Regions from separate parts of the Homo sapiens genome. Here region 1 is linked to region 2. Evidence: fine-mapped expression QTL. A gene starts in region 2. The other region holds a variant in brackets. All regions are shown on one strand. Distances are from middle to middle.

Region 1 (8,333 bases), 41 kb before region 2:
CAAGTACAAGTCATGATAACACAATACATATTTTAATGCAACAAGCCACTGCACTTGGTATCATTATAATAACTGGAAAAATTATATGTGTATTTCTTCATAGCATGTTTTCGTTCCTTTCTCAAAACAAGTCAAAGGCCCCTTTATCAAAGCACACATGATAGGAACTTGAAATGCAGCTTCCATCTAGGGCACACAGGGCCAATAAGCTTTGGACCCAGTTTCTTGCCAAAGCACCTGCAGCTCCCACACCCCTGCCTGGGCCTGGGGTGCTCTGTGCCCCATGCCTGCTCCCCAGGACTCACAGGTGGGCCAGACCGGCCTTGCGCACAGCCGAGGAGATGGCTTTGATGGCCGTCAGCATTGAGTTCAGCAGCTGGGTGAGCTCCCCAGTCCCTTTGGCCTGACGCCCCTTTTCCATAACGTAGCGGGTCAGGGTGAGCATGTCGGTTTCGAAGGGGCTTCTGTCCGTCATTTTGGCTGGAATGCTTCAAATCCTTTTCTCCCGGCAGGAAACCTTGCTTACTTCTGAGGGCTGCAGCTCCGCAGTGTGGAAGCCGATAAGAAATCTGTGCTGGCCCTGCCAGGATCTCTAAGGAAAAGGGCCCAAAACACATGACTCAAACAACTGCTGGGGCCCTCAAGGAACTCCCTCTGGCCTCGGGGACTGTGGCAGCTGCCAGGGAGCCGCAGCAGTCTGTAAATAGGACGGGCTGCCCAGAAACATGGAGCTGCTTTCTCCTGCTGAGCACCCCCTTTCAAGATACCAAGAAGCCACCATTTAGGCACAGGTGGGAGGTGAGAAATCCAGTTGATTAAAAAATGATGCATAAAACCCTCTTATTCCAGGCTCCAAAGGATTCTTCACATATAGTGACTGCAGGGCCTGGCTCTCCCGAGGGCGGAGGTGGCAGATTCGCAGGTTCCTTATCTGGGACGTAGGTCACATAGTAACATAATGGCAACCCCAGAATTCCTTTAGCCAGGGTTTGGAATAAGTTAGGAAAGAATGCTTTTTATTTCCAGTAGGCATGTATGACCAGTGGATATCCACAGTAGAGATCCAGATCCGGAAGAAAACTATTATATTCCTAGCACAGTTCCTGGCACCAGTGTTATTTTGTCAATATCTCTGGATGTCCACTTTTGTAACAAAAATTGCTTGTTAAAAAGGAAACACTAAAGAAGTGGATAAAGACAAACCTCCTCACCACCAGCCCATTCTCCCATCCCACTCTCCAGAAATCACTGCTGCTAGGGCTGGTGGCGGTCTGTGCAGCCAGTAGGCACTGGTGGGGTGCATATGGTGGTGGAAGCACTTTCTCTAGGGCCAGCCAGACCTGGCTGTGAGTCCCAAGCTAGCTATCTGTTGGTTGCATGATTTGAGAAAGTTATTAAACCCCTTGGAACCTCAGTTGTCTCACTCTTAAATGAGCATAACCGTGAAGCATCCATCTTATAGAGTGGCTGCAATGAGATGTACCTAGTATAGTAGGTGCTCAGTACTTTGTTACCTATTATTGCCCTTCCAGTTTTTTTTTTTTTTTTTTTTTTTTTTTTTGAGATGGAGTCTCACTCTGTCGCCCAGGCTGGAGTGCAGTGGCGTGATCTCGGCTCACTGCAAGCTCCGCCTTCCAGGTTCACGCTATTCTCCTGCCTCAGCCTCCCGAGTAGCTGGGACTACAGGCGCCTGCCACGACGCTTGGCTAATTTTTTGTATTTTTAGTAGAGACGGGGTTTCACCGTGTTAGCCAGGATGGTCTCGATTTCCTGACCTCGTGATCCGCCCGCCTCGGCCTCCCAAAGTGCTGGGATTACAGGCGTGAGCCATCACGCCCAGCCGCCCTTCCAGTCTTTCAATGTGCTCACAACTATTGTGCAATCATACATAATCTCATTTCACAAAACAGTACAACATGCACATTTCTCTGAAGGTCTTTTCCCCTGACAGTTATGTCGATTAGAATGTGTTCAGCTGCAAGAAATAGAACAACTAGAGCAATTTACACGTGGGGGTTTATTTCCTCATAGACCAGGAGTGCACTAGGAGGTGGTGGCTGGTGTTCATTCAGCTGTTCTTGGTTCCACTGGGACCCCTCTCTGTCTCGTCTCTGTCATCCTTGGTCGGCTGGATTGTGCCCCTTGCTTGGCATCCTGGGGGCACAAAATGTCACTGCAGTTCTGAACATCTGGCCCACGTTGAAGATGCAAAGAGGGGAGCAAGGGCAGCTCCAACCACATCAGTTCCTTTTTATTAAGAAAGAACAGTTTCCCTGGAACCCATCCTCCCACCCCCGTAGACGTCCCTGTGCACAGCGTCTGCCAGATCAGGGTCGTGTGGTGATGCCTGCAGTGGGAGCTGGGCGCTGGCATTGGATCAACCAAACTGGTTGAGGAGGGCAACCAAATGGTTGAGATGGGCATTGGTGCTCACAATTTATGTGGAAACTTTCAGATAAAACTAACATCTACCAGTAGATCTTAATATGCAGGTTTAAGATCCCAAATATATATATATGTTATTTATATATGTTTTTAGTTCCAGAAAGCAAATATTATGGGAAGATGTCCAAGTCAGCACACAGAGGCTTGGATCATTCCAGCTTGCGGACATTCAGATAATTTAGGTAAGTTGGCTCCTCAAATAGTAATGCAACAAACATCCTTATATTGGGGCAAGTGCTTCAGTAAGATACAACCCCAGAAGAGGAACTGCTATGTGACAATGTTCTAATTCTTTTCGCGGGGGTGTGGGGGGGTCTATCTTCACTTACCAAGAAATATGCTACCTCTTAATAGAACAAATACAGGATCCCATACCCTTTTTGTGATTTTCATTCAATCTATTTCAACTTTCAACACTGAGGTGAATGGATAGATGGAGACAGATGACACCTCTATCTCAGTATGTGGCACACATTAATCCACCCAATTATTTGATCCAGTAGTGCTATTTTTACAGATGAGGAAACTAGGGCTTCCTAGGGATAACACAGCTACTAGCTAGAATCTCAGCCCAGAGCTACCTGAGGTTAGCGTTCTTTCTCTTATATGATACTTTCTCCCATTCTAGGATGCTCCTCCTCCCTAGATGACTGAGCACCATACACGACAATGCACATATGCCTGTTAACACAATTAGAACATAGAATAAGACATGAGCTTAGAATTGAGTTCTAACAAGAGAGATCGCTATGTATAATAAAACAAGAACATCTGCCTGGGTCAGACCAGAGTATTGCTAAATCTATACCCAAAGGAAAGAAGCCTGGGCCGGGAATCAAAGCCCTCCGGGACTCAGATGCCTCAATTTAAAAATGAGATCCAGCTGAGCACAGTGGCTCACACCTGTAATCCCAGCACTTTGGGAGGCCAAGGCAGGGGGATCACTTGAGCCCAGGAGTTCAAGACCAGCCTGGCCAACATGGTGAAACCCCATCTCTATAAAAAAAATACAAAAATTAGCCAGTGTAGTGGCGTGCACCTGTAGTCCCAGCTACTCAGGAGGCTGAGGTGGGAGGATCACTTGAACCTGGGAGGCAGAGGTTGCCGTGAGCCAAGATGGCACCACTGCACTGCAGCCTGGGTGACATTGAGAGTCTGTCT[CAA/C]AAAAAAAAAAAAAATGGGATTAGACTTCATGATCCCTAACTGTATTATCTTCACTTAGTTTTAAAAACACACATTTTCGGCCAGGTGCAGTGACTCACACCTGTAATCCCAGCACTTTGGGAGGCCAAGGCAGGCGGATCACGAGGTCAGGAGATCGAGACCATACTGGCTAACGTGGAGAAACTCCATCTCTACTAAAAATACAAAAAACTAGCTGGGCATGGTGGTGTGCACCTGTAGTCCTAGCTCCTTAGGAGGCTGAGGCAGGAGAATTGCTTGAACCTGGGAGGCGAAGGTTGCAGCGAGCCGAGATCGCACCATTGCACTCCAGCCTGGACAACAGAGTGAGACTCCATCTCAAAAAAAAAAAAAAGAAGAAGAAGAAAAGAAAAGACATATTATCACTGCTTCCAAGTGTTTCTGAATCCAAATGAAAAGTGGTTGCCTTCATCATTCAGAACAATACTGTCACATTGAGAAATATGCTGGGGAAAAAAAGTTATTAGCAAGAGAGCCTTCTGCAATGGCTTCACTTCTGTCAGTTGCTAAGGGTAAGGTAAAGACTTGGGTATCATTTCTAGCTCATGTTTCTTCTGGAAGGTGCTCCACTGCCAACATAATAATCAATCCAACTTCCCTATTGGAAGCTGGAGAAAGGGCCATTCCAGTGTGTTTTACTCTGTGTGTTCCTGTTTAATGAAAGACTCATCTAAATAGAGATGCCACTTTGTATTAATCTGTTCACCCCATCTGACACTCAGTATCAGTTTAATAATAATAATAAGCTAATAACAGGAGTTATCATTTTTTGGGTAAGAACATTTTAATTTTGATATCATGAGGATCAAACTTGGAAAACTCTTCCTTTCCCAAGAGCTCTGGGAATTGTGAAAACTGCGGAATGGACCTTTCCTTGATCCTAACACGTCATGTTGCCATTAACAAATAAGCTTTGCCTTTCACATGGGGAAACCAATGATGATTCCTTTGACATCACTACAGAAATAGAGTGGCTGGATCTTCCAAGTTCTGGTCCAGTAAATGACTGCAGGGTGAAGACGGAGGCCTGGTTGATTAGTTTTCAGGTTTCATTTTGAAGCTAATGTTATCTGATTAAGAAGGTCTCCGGCTGGGCACGGTGGCTCACACCTGTAATCCCAGCACTTTGGGAGGCCGAAGCAGGCAGATCACGAGGTCAGGAGATCAAGACCATCCTGGCTAACACGCATCTCTACTAAAAACACAGAAAAAAATTAGCCGGGCATGGTGGCGGGCACCTGTAGTCCCAGCTACTCGGGAGGCTGAGGCAGGAGAATGGCGTGAACCCAGGAGGCAGAGCTCGCAGTGAGCTGAGATTGTGCCACTGCACTCCAGCCTGGGCGACAGAGCAAGACTCTGTCTCAAAACAAAAAAAAAGAAGGTTTCCCCTGTGATGGCGCAAAACAATGCTGAAAATGTGTATTCACACAAAAACCCACACACAGATGTTTATAGCAGTTCTAGTTAAACTAGAAACTGCAAACACCCAAAATCTCCTTAACAGTGAATGGGTAAACACACTGGGAGAGCCATACAACGGAATACTATTTTTTTTGAGGCGGAGTCTCGCTCTGTTGCCCAGGCTGGGGTGCAGTGGCATGACCTCGGCCTCCCGGGTTCACGCCATTCTCCTGCCTCAGCCTCCTGAGTAGCTGGGACAACAGGCACCTGCCACCACGCCCGGCTAATTTTGTTTTTGTATTTTTAGTAGAGACGGGGTTTCACCGTATTAGCCAGGATGGTCTCAATCTCCTGACCTCGTGATCCGCCCGCCTCGGCCTCCCAAAGTGCTGGGATTAAAGGCATGAGCCACTGCGCCCGGCCACAATGGAATACTATTAACAACACAAACACTAGTGTCACGTGTGGCACTTAGGCGAGTCTCAGAGGCATTGTGCTGAGTGACAGCAGTGGTCTCCAGCGAGTATCTACAGTCTCATTCCATTTGTAGGGGACTCTCCAGAATGCAAACCTGTGGGGACAGATAACTCTCATGGCTGCCAGGGGTAGGGGTGTGGGGAGGGGACAGGGCAATGGGGGTTTGCATGATAGAACAGTTCTAGACCCCAATTATAGTCATAATCCCAATTTCAAATTTTGCAAACTGAAATTCTGTACCCATTAAACAAGAACTCCCCATTCCCCCTCCCAACACCTAGTCCCTGGCACCCGCCATTCTGCTGTCTCTATGAATTTGGCTACACTGGGTCCCTCATAGACCATACAGTATCTGTCCTGCTGCGACTGGCTTATTTCACTCAGCACAATGTCCTCACCATCCCCGCATGCTGTGGCATGGGTCAGAGTTCCCTCCTCTCTGAGGCTCAACAGCATTCCCTGGTATGGACACGCCACAGTCTGTTCACCCATTCATCCTCTATGGCCGCTTGGGTTGCCTCCACCTCTGGGCTAGTGTGAGTAATGCTGCCATGAGCACAGCGTGCAAACATCTGTTCAAGGCCCTGCTTTTGATTCTCTCGGGGATGTGCCCAGAGGTGGACCTGCAGGATCATATGGTAATTGTCTGTCTAATTTCTGGAGGAACTGCTGCACCATTTTCCACAGCGGCTGCACCATTTCACACTCCCCAGCAGTGAGCAAGAGTCCCAGGGTCTCCACCTTATTGCCAGCACTTGTTATTTTCTGTTTGTTTGTTTTTACAGTAACCATCCCAATGGGTGTGAGGTGGTATCTCACTGTGGCTTAGAGTAGTTGCATCTTCCTAATGATTAGTGATGTTGAGCAGGTGCTTATTAGCCACTCCTGTAATTATTTTTATTATGCTTTTTGTTTGTTTTGTTTTTTGAGACAGAGTCTCGCTGTGTTGCCCAGACTGGAGTGCCGTGGCACGATCTCGGCTCACTGCAACCTCCATCTTCCAGGTTCAAGTGATTCTCCCATCTCAGCTCACGAGTAGCTGGGACTACAGGCACGCACCACCATGCCTGGCTACCTTTTGTATTTTTAGTAGAGATGGGGTTTCATGATATTGGGCAGGCTGGTCTCAAACTCCTGACCTCAGGTGATAAGCCTGTCTTGGCCTCCCAAAGTGCTGGGATTATAGGCGTGAGCCACTGCGCTCGGCTTATTATGTTTTATTAACATATCTGTTCACAACAGATTGGAAGTGAAACAAACAAGCCAGTGTTATGAGCAGATCTCTGGAGAGGCGCCGGTTGTCCGGCACTGTGGGTGTCAAGGATGAGCAGAAGCCTGGATAATTTGGGGATCAGGAGGGAGGGGGATTGGCCAGTGCCATGTATAAGTCAGCTCCCCCCGTAAAGGGATCCAAGGGAGGGCCTGCTATTTCTGCCACCCTCCAGCCCAGGCTGGCACCTGTGCAGCTGTCATGCCCCTTTCAGCTACATTTAAATGTTGGAAGTTCGAGTTACCTACATGATCTGAAATTGCAGCTGGTGACCTTTCAGCAAATGCCAAAGTTCTTTCAGGGCACACAACAGCGTGGACACACGGGGCATCTGGAAGGCCCAGAGGAAGGGGGGGGCAGCGTCCAGCTCACGCTTTTTTCAGCGCCACTGATGCATTGGTGATCACAGAGCTATTTATGGGCTTGCTGTGCTTGGTGAAAGGCCCTCACAGGCCTGGGCGGAAGTAGTAAGGACAAACAGAGTCTCTGAACAGTAAGGCAGTCTTAGGGCAGTTCATAGGGCGGGGCCCCCACCTGAAGTCTAGGATCTGGACTGTGACTCTACAGTACTAGCTGAGAGCATATTCTCTGTTAGCAAAACTCTGTTAGAATGCCTTCCATGCCCCGTCTCCAGTGATCTCAACAAACGCTCTTTCATGAAACCTCAGCATTTCTGCTTCCAGCACGGCAGACCCTTTAGGGTATCTGCTCAGCCCACGATCCCCATCTAAGAGAGAGGCGTGCCCTGCCCATAAAAAGAAAACCCAAGGCCACGTTTGTCTTATATGACCCGGGTCTATGGCTGCAGCTAACTGGACACAAGCTAAGACGTCAGGTTTTTTTCTCCGGGGAACTTGGTGTGAGACATGGAGACACAGTGGATTGGCTGACAATGCCAGGACGGACTAAGGGTGTGTCCTCGGGGTTAGGAAAGCAGTGGGTGCTAGGTTTCATGAGAGTCCCCTGAAGCTTTCCAACAAATTGCCTTTCTGCTTTAGCAGAATAAATGGGTTTCTGTTACCTACGATGAAAATGGCCTTGACTACAATAGATATTACAATTAACATTTTGCAAATGAAGAAAGGGAGACTCAGAGAGGTTAAAAATATTGCCAAGCTTGGTCTAGTTTAGTCAGGATAGCGTATGTTATCGTGCAGCAACAAATAAACCTGAAATCCCCACGGCTTAGCACAGCAAAGGTTTGTCTCTCCTTCTGGTCCCAGGCTGACATCGACATGGCGGTGGCTTAGGCCTCCAGGCTCCTGCCATGTCATGAACCTGTACAAAAATGCATGGCTTCAGAGGAGGACCCATCCTAATGTAGGTAATCTAGGCTCATCTCATCTTAATCCTTACTTTAATTAGATCTGCAAAGACCCTCATTCTTTTTTCTTTTTTTTTTTTTTTTTTTGAGACGAGTCTCGCTCTGTCGCCCAGGCTGCAGTGCAGTGGTGTGATCTCGGCTCACTGCAAGCTCTGCCTCCCGGGTTCATGCCATTCTCCTGCCTCAGCCTCCTGAGTAGCTGGGACTACAGGC
Region 2 (8,333 bases):
AGAGCGAGACTCTGCCTCAAAAAAAAAAAAAAGAAAGAAAAAGAAAGCATCTTTCAAAACCTCTATTGCGTGTTAGAACGATACAAATATTTTTTCCTACAGAGTAAACTCTGTGTTGTTCTCGTCTTCTGGAACTTTGTACATGGTGGATGTTCAGTAATATTTTGTTAATTGAATGAAATCAGTGAATTCTTCAGTCAGTGATTTGGAAATGGATACAAAGGGAAGTCAACTCCACAAAACAAAAAACCTGAAGCCACTGGAGCACCACTTTCTCCCAAAGGAATGCAAAGTGGACAACACTCGAATTTGACATTTGAACCACAACTTCATCAGCTTGACTTCAAGTTGCAGACTGTTCTGATCTGCACAGTTTCTCTCCCAAGAGTGGATGGAGGGAGCCAGAAGCCCAGAGGGAAGTCTCCCAGGGCACATTTGCCCAAAGCAATGACTCCTTGGTATCTAAGCCTGAATTCACATCAAAAATGTCGCCTGGCCAACATGGCTAAACCCTGTCTCTACTAAAAATACAAAAATTAGGCCGGGCGCAGTGGCTCACACTTCTAATCCCAGCACTTTGGGAGGCCGAGGCAGGTGGATCACTTGAGGCCAGTTCGACCCTGGTCAACTTGGCAAAATCCCATCTCTACTAAAAATACAAAAATTAGCCAGGTATGGTAGTGTACGCCTGTAATCTCAGCTACTCGGGAAATTGAGGCAGGAGAATCACTTGAACCCGGGAGGCAGAGGTTGCAGTAAGCTGAGATTGCACCACTGCACACCAGCCTGAGTGAGAGTGAGGCCCTGTCTCAAAAAAAAAAAAAAAAAAAAAAAACCAGTTAACTAATAGATGAGATTTAGAGTTTGGTGAATTCTAATTGATTTCTAAAAAATAAAGGAAGAGATGTGTAGTGTGGCCAAAAGACCTCCAATCCGGGGTTCCTGAGATCCCGGCCACAGGCCAAGTCATCTCATCTTCCTCGGTCTCAGGGTCCTCTTCTGTATGAGGAGGTGATAGACTAGCTGACTGTTGAGTCTCTTTCAGTCTAAAACTCAATGATTCCATGAACATTTTAACAGGAGCAATGAAAGTGACTACAATAGCAACTTTAGGTTACACCAGGCTCTGTGCTTAAACTCCTGATGTTTCCATAATGATCCTGGGTGAGCTCCCTAAACTGGCTCCAGTGAGGTTCCTGCAAATCTGCAATCACCCCGTCCCTCTGGGTACATGCTCTTCTAGGTCCGGTCTTCAGCACTAACAAGATCTTTGCAGGAATGCTGGTTTTTCTTTCTGGATTTCAATGCCTGGAATGAATGTAGGTTGGGGGCCTGGCTTGAGAATCATGCTACCTGCCTGATGACATGTGATACTGAAAATGGCCAAACGCTGAACTTCCCACAAGATCACCTCAGTGTCCAGCATCTAGTCCTGTCAGCTACCCCAACAACCAGGCATGCACACCAGTTCCAAGGGTACAGCACTGTAATACCCAAAGGCTAGTAAAAACCAAAGTGCCCCAAAATAGAGAAAAACTTCAATACCTCATGATGTGTGCAGGGGAGCAGCACACAGCAGTTAAAAGGAGGTAGATGTAGATGTCCCGATATTAATGGATGTTTCTTGAATAATGTTAAATAACAAAGCAAACTACAGAAATGTGTATTGTGATCCCATTTTGTCTGCTATTATAGGCATATGTAAATATGTGTTCATGTGTAAACTTATATGACTGTAAAAGAGTATCCGGAAAAATAAGCAGTAAATTATTTGCAGTGGATACCCCATGGGATATATATGGGGTGGGTTTCACTCTTCCCTTGAATTCTTTTGAATGGTTTAAATTTTTGTCAATGAGTGCAACATAGTATTTCTTTAAAACCTGGTATTCACAACTATCTAGTATAAAAGTACACATATTGGCCAGGCACAGTGGCTCATACCTGTAATCCCAGCATTTTGGGAGGCCAAGGTGGGCAGATCGCTTGAGCCCAGGAATTTGAGACCAGCCTGGGCAACATAACAAAACCCCATCTCTACAAAAACACAAAAATTATCCGGCATGGTGGCACATGCCTGTAGTCCCAGCTACAGGGGAGGCTGAGGTGGGAGCACCAATTCAGCCTGGGAGGTTGAGGCTGCAGTGAGCCATTATCACACCACTGCACTCCAGCCTGGGCAACAGAGTGCGACTCTATCTCAAAATAAATAAATAAATAAAACGCATACCTTACGTAGCCAAAATTAACATGCTTCATCCAGGCCCCACCATCAAAATCTCACTATCCAAGGTCCCACTGTCTAAGGTTACTTAGACAGTGGGACACCTCAAAACACATCTTACATTTCTCAGTCTCTCTAGGGGTGTGAAAGGTACTGACACATTTTTTAAACAATATCAGACATGACAAGCCCTTTTTTTTCTTTTTTTGAGACAGAGTCTTACTCGGTCGCCAGGCTGGAGTAGAGTGGCACGATCTGGGCTCACTGCAACCTCCGCCTCCCGGGTTCAAGCAATTCTCCTGCCTCAGCCTCCCAAGTAGCTGGGATTACAGGCGCCTGCCACCATGCCTGGCTAATTTTTGTGTTTTTAGTAGAGACAGGGTTTCACCATGTTGGCCAGGCTGGTCTCAAACACCTGGACTTTGAGTGATCTACCCGTCTCAGCCTCCCAAAGTGCTGGGATTACAGGTGTGAGCCACCACACCCAGTCGACAAGCCCTCTTTTTAAAATATATCCCTGGTCCTCAAAGGCAGTTAAAGCTGTGAGCCACCTATACTAGCTGTAAATTAAAGCTTAAGATTTCACCTGGGTATGTTTCTAAAATAAGAATCCTTAGGAATGTATTATTAAGAGGGGCCAGAGGCAACAGTAATGGAGTCATCACCTTCCTTAACATGTCTGCTTAATATTCAAAAATAAATGTGATCATACCACTCCTTTACATGAATTACCTCCACCAGTCCATACTGTGGGACCAAAGCCAGACAGCCTGCCAGTAAGAAAAGGAATCTAGATTGCAGGATGCGGGGCGGAGAAGAGTTTTTAAGAATGGAGAAATGCATTCCAAACCCAAGTAGCAGGGTTGTATTTGTTCAGGTCAGCTCTGAGCATCATGCGTCTTTTTTTTTTTTTTTTAAGACAAAGTCACGCTCTTGTCGCGCAGGCTGGAGTGCAATGATGCGATCTCGGCTCACTGCAACCTCTGCCTCCTGGGTTCAAGCAATTCTCCTTCCTCAGCCTCCCGAGTAGCTGGGATTACAGGCGCCTGCCACCACACCCAGCTAATTTTTGGTAGAGACGGGGTTTCACCATGTTGATCAGGTTGGTCTTGAACTCCTGACCTCAGGCAATCCACCTGTTTCGGCCTCCCAAAGTGCTGGGATGACAGGCTAGAGCCTACGCGCCCAGCCCATCATGTGTCATTTTTATAGTGTGCATAAGTGCGGGGAATGTTAGTAAAGTGTATGGACAATCTGAAAACCCAGTTACACTTCAGTTAAAAGTGTGGATCAGTTAGCTAGAAAATACCTGCGCACGGCGGCTCATGCCTGTAATCCCAGCACTTTGGGAGGCCAAGGCATCACCGGAGGTCGGGAGTTCGAGACCAGCCTGACCAACATGGAGAAACCCCGTTTCTACTAAAAAAAATTACAAAATTAGCTGGGCATGGTGGCACATGCCTGTAATCCCAGCTACTCGGGAGACTGAGGCAGGAGAATCGCTTGAACCTGGGAGGCAGAGGTTGCGGTGAGCCAAGATCGCACCATTGCACTCCAGCCTGGGCAACAAGAGCAAAATTCCATCTCAAAAAAAAAAAAAAAAAGAAAAGAAAAAGAAAATACCTGTGCACACCAACACAAACGAAAGGATGTTGTGTGACTTACAAAAAACCTCACAAGAAGGGGTCCTTTGAGTCTCCACTCCACTTGACCCCTTGCTACTCACAATGTGATGAGTAGACAAACAGTATCTGATGGGCAGCACCCACCACAGGAGAACTTCTTAGAAATGCAGAATCTCAGGACCTGTCCCAGAGCTATGGAAGGAGGGCACACATCTTACCAAGATCCCCAAATGATTCCTGTGCCCAGTGACGTTCGAGATGCACTCCATAGCGCATTCAGAACCATTCTACAAACCACTTTTGAGCTTTCCACTAATTGGGCAGAGGCTGCACACACCATCATTGCAAATCGATAGGGGTTTTGAAGCCCTGGGTGTTTCCTGTTTCTGGCACAGCATGGCAACTGTCCCAGCAAGGGGCAGCCCACGGGAGCTCCTTTGCACACAAGCCCTGCTGCTCCTAAAGGCTCTGGACACACAGGAGACCTCCCAGCCTGCTTGCGGGGGGGGCGGGGGGGACACTCGCTCCTAACAGGTCTTGTTTCAGGTCAGAGATAACTGGATTAGAAACCTGACTTGGGTCCCTAATTGCAGAAAGAGTGAAGGAGGACAAAGAAGAAATGGGGAAGGAAGGCACCTGAGCTAGCACTTTCCTGTCTGAGGCTAGGGCGGGTATGACGGGCAGGCCAGGTGCCCACACTTGGCCGGCTGAGAGGGGTACGAGGCAGGCTGCTCAGGGCAGAGAAGAGGAATGCAAGATGGAATCAGGTGTACACCTGTGAGACGGACCCCCAGGTGGGCCCCTCCAAGGTCAAGGGAGGAGATGAGGACTTGAGTGAGGCTGAGCCAGCTTCTGGAGAGAGGGGCTACCAGACAGAGAGCGAGAGAGGCGCTCAGACATCAGACGGACAGACAGAGGCTGACGGCAGGAGGCTCAGAGGGCCCAACGTCAGCCCGCCGGGCAGGCTCCCCAGGCAGACAGACAGGACGGGGCCCACCGCCCAAGGCCCGACTCACAGGTGCGCGATGCCCGCCTTGCGCACCGCCGAAGAGATGGCTTTGACTGCTGTGCAGAGCGAGTTGAGCAGCTGGGTCAACTCGCCCGTGCCGCGGGCCTTCCTGCCCTCCTCCATGACGAAGCGGGTCAGGGTGTTGACGTCCGTGTCGAAGGGCGCCTGGTCAGCCATGCTTGAACCGGGTAGAGCGCGGGGCTGCAGGTGCAAGCGGCAGGTGCGGGGCTGCAGGTGCGGGCGGCAAGAGAGGGCAGTAGGCACTGGCCGCAGGTGCGGAGCTGCAGGTGCGGGCGGCAGGTGCGGGCCGCGGGACCTGGCGGGAGGACTGACAGACCGACTGCCGCCCCGAGTGTCCGCAGCGCTCGTGGTGCAACTGGGCCAGGCCAGGCGCCGGCGGGTGAATCGCGGAAACCTTTAGACGCGGGTCGGCCCCCCGCCCCCGGGAACACTCTTGCGCCCCGCCTACCCCGCGGACCAGACCGCGGCTCCGCCTGCTTGGATCTTCAGACAAGGTCGGGGATCCTCCCTGCGGTCTCCCAACCCCCGCCCCCACGCGCCCTGCCGCCCCCTAGTCTTCCTGGGCTGTCGCCCCCCACACACACCCCTCCGTGCCCTCCACCCGCACTGTGGAGCGGGACTCGGGCCATCGGACTCTGCCAGAGAGAAAGCTATGACTGTTTCCTCCAAAATCATAAAACGGAAGTTCAGAAAGGTTAAGTAACTTGCTCAATGCCACCAGCTAGGCAGCGAAACCCGCAGCCAGTCCACATGGCCTGGCTTTAGCTCTGCAGCTCCTGCCCCGTGTGGCTGCCTGCCCCCGCCCCCTGCCCAAGCCCCGTCCACTCTGCCTGGCCTGTCACCTGGCCCTTCTGTCCCCGCTAGGAGACACAGAGTCCCCGTTTCTCACCCATCTGAGGGCCCACGTCTGAATCCTTAATCCAGGCCTCTTCTCAAGATTCCTAGAATTCGAGAGCTATTGAGTATTTGAATTTCCAAGATGTGAGTCTCGCCCGGAAGTTTCCCGGAAAACGGTCGCTGACACAGAGTCCTCGGCTACCACACAAAGGCCAGAGGGCTCCACCGCCCGCATCCTGACCCCCTGGTAGCCACAATGCTGCAATTGATGTGCTGATTCACGAAACAACACCTATTGAGCACCTGCTGTGCTGAACACTGTCCTACCTTCCAGGGGTGGAGCCTGATCCAAACAGACAAAACTCCTGCCCTTTTCGAGTGTACGTTTTCACAGAGAAACAGTAAAAATAAATATATAAACAATAGATTAGTTTGTTACATAAGCCATAAGTACCATAGAGAGAAACGAAATAGAAAAGGAAGACACGGAATGTGGAGGGGAGAAGAGGGTGAGCAGAGGCCTCAGTAAAAGCTTCTCTGAGAAAGGGATATGTGAGCAAAGAGGTGAAGGATGCAACGCGCCGGTGGAGATGGGAAGGAGAGCGGTTTCCTCACCGGGAGAGCCAGTGCACAGGCCCTGGGGTAGGAGACCATGTTTCAGGTTCAGGGAATGGCCAGGAGACCGGTGGAGCTGAAATAGAGCTAGCAAGGGTCAGAGGTGGAGGAGATAAGGCCAGCGGGAGGATGCAGAGGTGAGGTCTAGAGGGCCAAGTGAGGTTTGACTTTGACTAGGAGGAACCCACTGGAGAGTTTGGAGAAGAAGAGAGGCATGGTCTACCCTGTGTCTTCATACTGCGGCTACTGTGTGAAGATCAGACTGAAGACAGTGCCCTCCAGGTTACTAGGAGATAGTGAGCCAGGTGTTAGCAGTGGAGGTGGTGGATTCTGGACATATTTTGAAGGTAGAGCTGATGGGATTCGTTGACAGATGAGATATGTGAGAGACAGGAGTCTCGGATGATTCTAAGGTTTGAGGCCTGAGAAACTAGAAGAATGCAGTTGTCCTCGACTGCGATGGGGAACACCGAGAGGGGCGTGTGCTGGAGGCAGGACTGACAATTAGGAGCTAAGTGTGGGACCTGCTAAGTTTGAAATGCCTTCTAGACATCCAAGGCAATGTCAAATAGACAGATTTATGTATCTGGAGTTCAGAGGAGAGATCCATGCTGCAGGTATAAATTGGAAAAGCCAACTGGAAAAACCAACCAAAAACCAAGAGATGTGACATCCGGGAAGCCAGATGAAGAAGGTAAGTAAAGGCGGGCTGACCCATGTGCCAAGCGGTGTGGATGGGGCAGGCAGGACAAGCTCTGAAAATTGACTGCTGGATTCACCGTGGAGACCTGGGGTGCAGATTCCTGTGCCCAGGGTTGTCAGATGCGGCGGCGTTGAATGAAGGAAGGTGGTGGTACCACCAGGAAAGACAGCGACTGTCTCCTCAAAGCCCCAGAGGGGACTTAGATGCCTGGCAAAGAGAGTTGATCCTTTAAGGGTCTTATTTAACTCTTTGTTCCTCAGGCAACTTTTCAGGAAAAACCCTGTGTTAAAAAAAATAGTAAGAGAAATACATCCTTAAACATAAAAACTCAAATAGGCCCGGCTCACTGGCTCACACCTGTAATCCCAGCACTTCACTTTGGGAGGCCGAGGCGGGCAGATCACCTGAGGTTGGGAGCTCGAGACCAGCCTGACCAACATGGAGAAACCCCGTCTCTACTAAAAGTACAAAAATTAGCTGGGCATGGTGGTGCATGCCTGTAATTCCAGCTACTCAGGAGGCTGAGGCAGGAGAATCGCTTGAACCTGGGAGGCGGAGATTGCAGTGAGCAGAGATGGCACCATTGCAGTCCAGCCTGGGCATCAAGAACAAAACTCCATCTCAAAAAAAAAAAAAAAAAAGAAAAACAAACAAACTGGAGGCTGAGGCGGGCAGATCTTGAGGTCAGGAGTTCAAGACCAGCCTGGCCAACATGGTGAAACCCATCTCTACTAAAATAAAAAATTAGCCGGGCATGGTGGTGTGCACCTGTAATTCCAGCTACTCAGGAGGCTGAGGCAGGAGAATCGCTTGAACCCGGGAGACAGAAGTTGCAGTGAGTCAAGATCCTGCCGCTGCACTCCAGCCTGGGCAACAGAGCGAGATTCAATCTCAAAAAAAAAAAAAAGAACTGAAATGTGATGACTAGTATTTTTGGCATAGTAACTAGTTACTAGGGGAGAGCTAGAGCTAGTAACTAGGGGAGTGTGCCCCTTTACTTGCCAGACTCTCAGTCCCTCAGGATCTTGGATTGGCTAGGACCGTAAAAGTCATCTAGTCCAGCCAACCCTCATTGGACACCATCCCTGATAAGAGGTGAAGAGCTTGGGATCTGCATTAAGCAAACTTGTTTGAGTCCCAGCTCCAGCCCTCAGCAGCCAGAGATCTCGGACCAGTTACCTAATCTCTGTAAACCCAGTTTGTTCATCCATATAGTGGAATAATGGTTCCATCTGGCAGTGGTGTCATCGGGCTGAAATGAGATGGCATTGGCAGAGTGCTTAGCTCAGAGCTACACAC

Alleles and levels. Positions count from the first base shown, and alleles are read on the strand shown. Sizes are in standard deviations (SD) of each study's normalised expression.
In carriers of allele CAA in region 1, the expression in naive CD8 T cells of the gene that starts at base 5,243 in region 2 tends to be higher than with C alone (large effect, 0.84 SD a copy in Schmiedel 2018).

Evidence for each region. PIP is the estimated chance that this variant, and not a neighbour inherited with it, causes the effect.
Region 1: its variant is fine-mapped to the expression of FBP1 in naive CD8 T cells (Schmiedel 2018, PIP 0.95).

Annotation. Positions count from the first base shown.
Region 1 is chr9:94,593,252-94,601,584 of GRCh38, forward strand. FBP2 (fructose-bisphosphatase 2) reads right to left here and starts at 573. Exons shown (of 7, transcript NM_003837.4): 1 at 306-573. The coding sequence starts at 475. The variant CAA/C (reference allele first, on the strand shown) is at 3,607.
Region 2 is chr9:94,634,276-94,642,608 of GRCh38, forward strand. It overlaps FBP1 (fructose-bisphosphatase 1), which reads right to left and starts at 5,243. Exons shown (of 7, transcript NM_000507.4): 1 at 4,866-5,243. The coding sequence starts at 5,035. RefSeq lists a silencer at 5,317-5,376.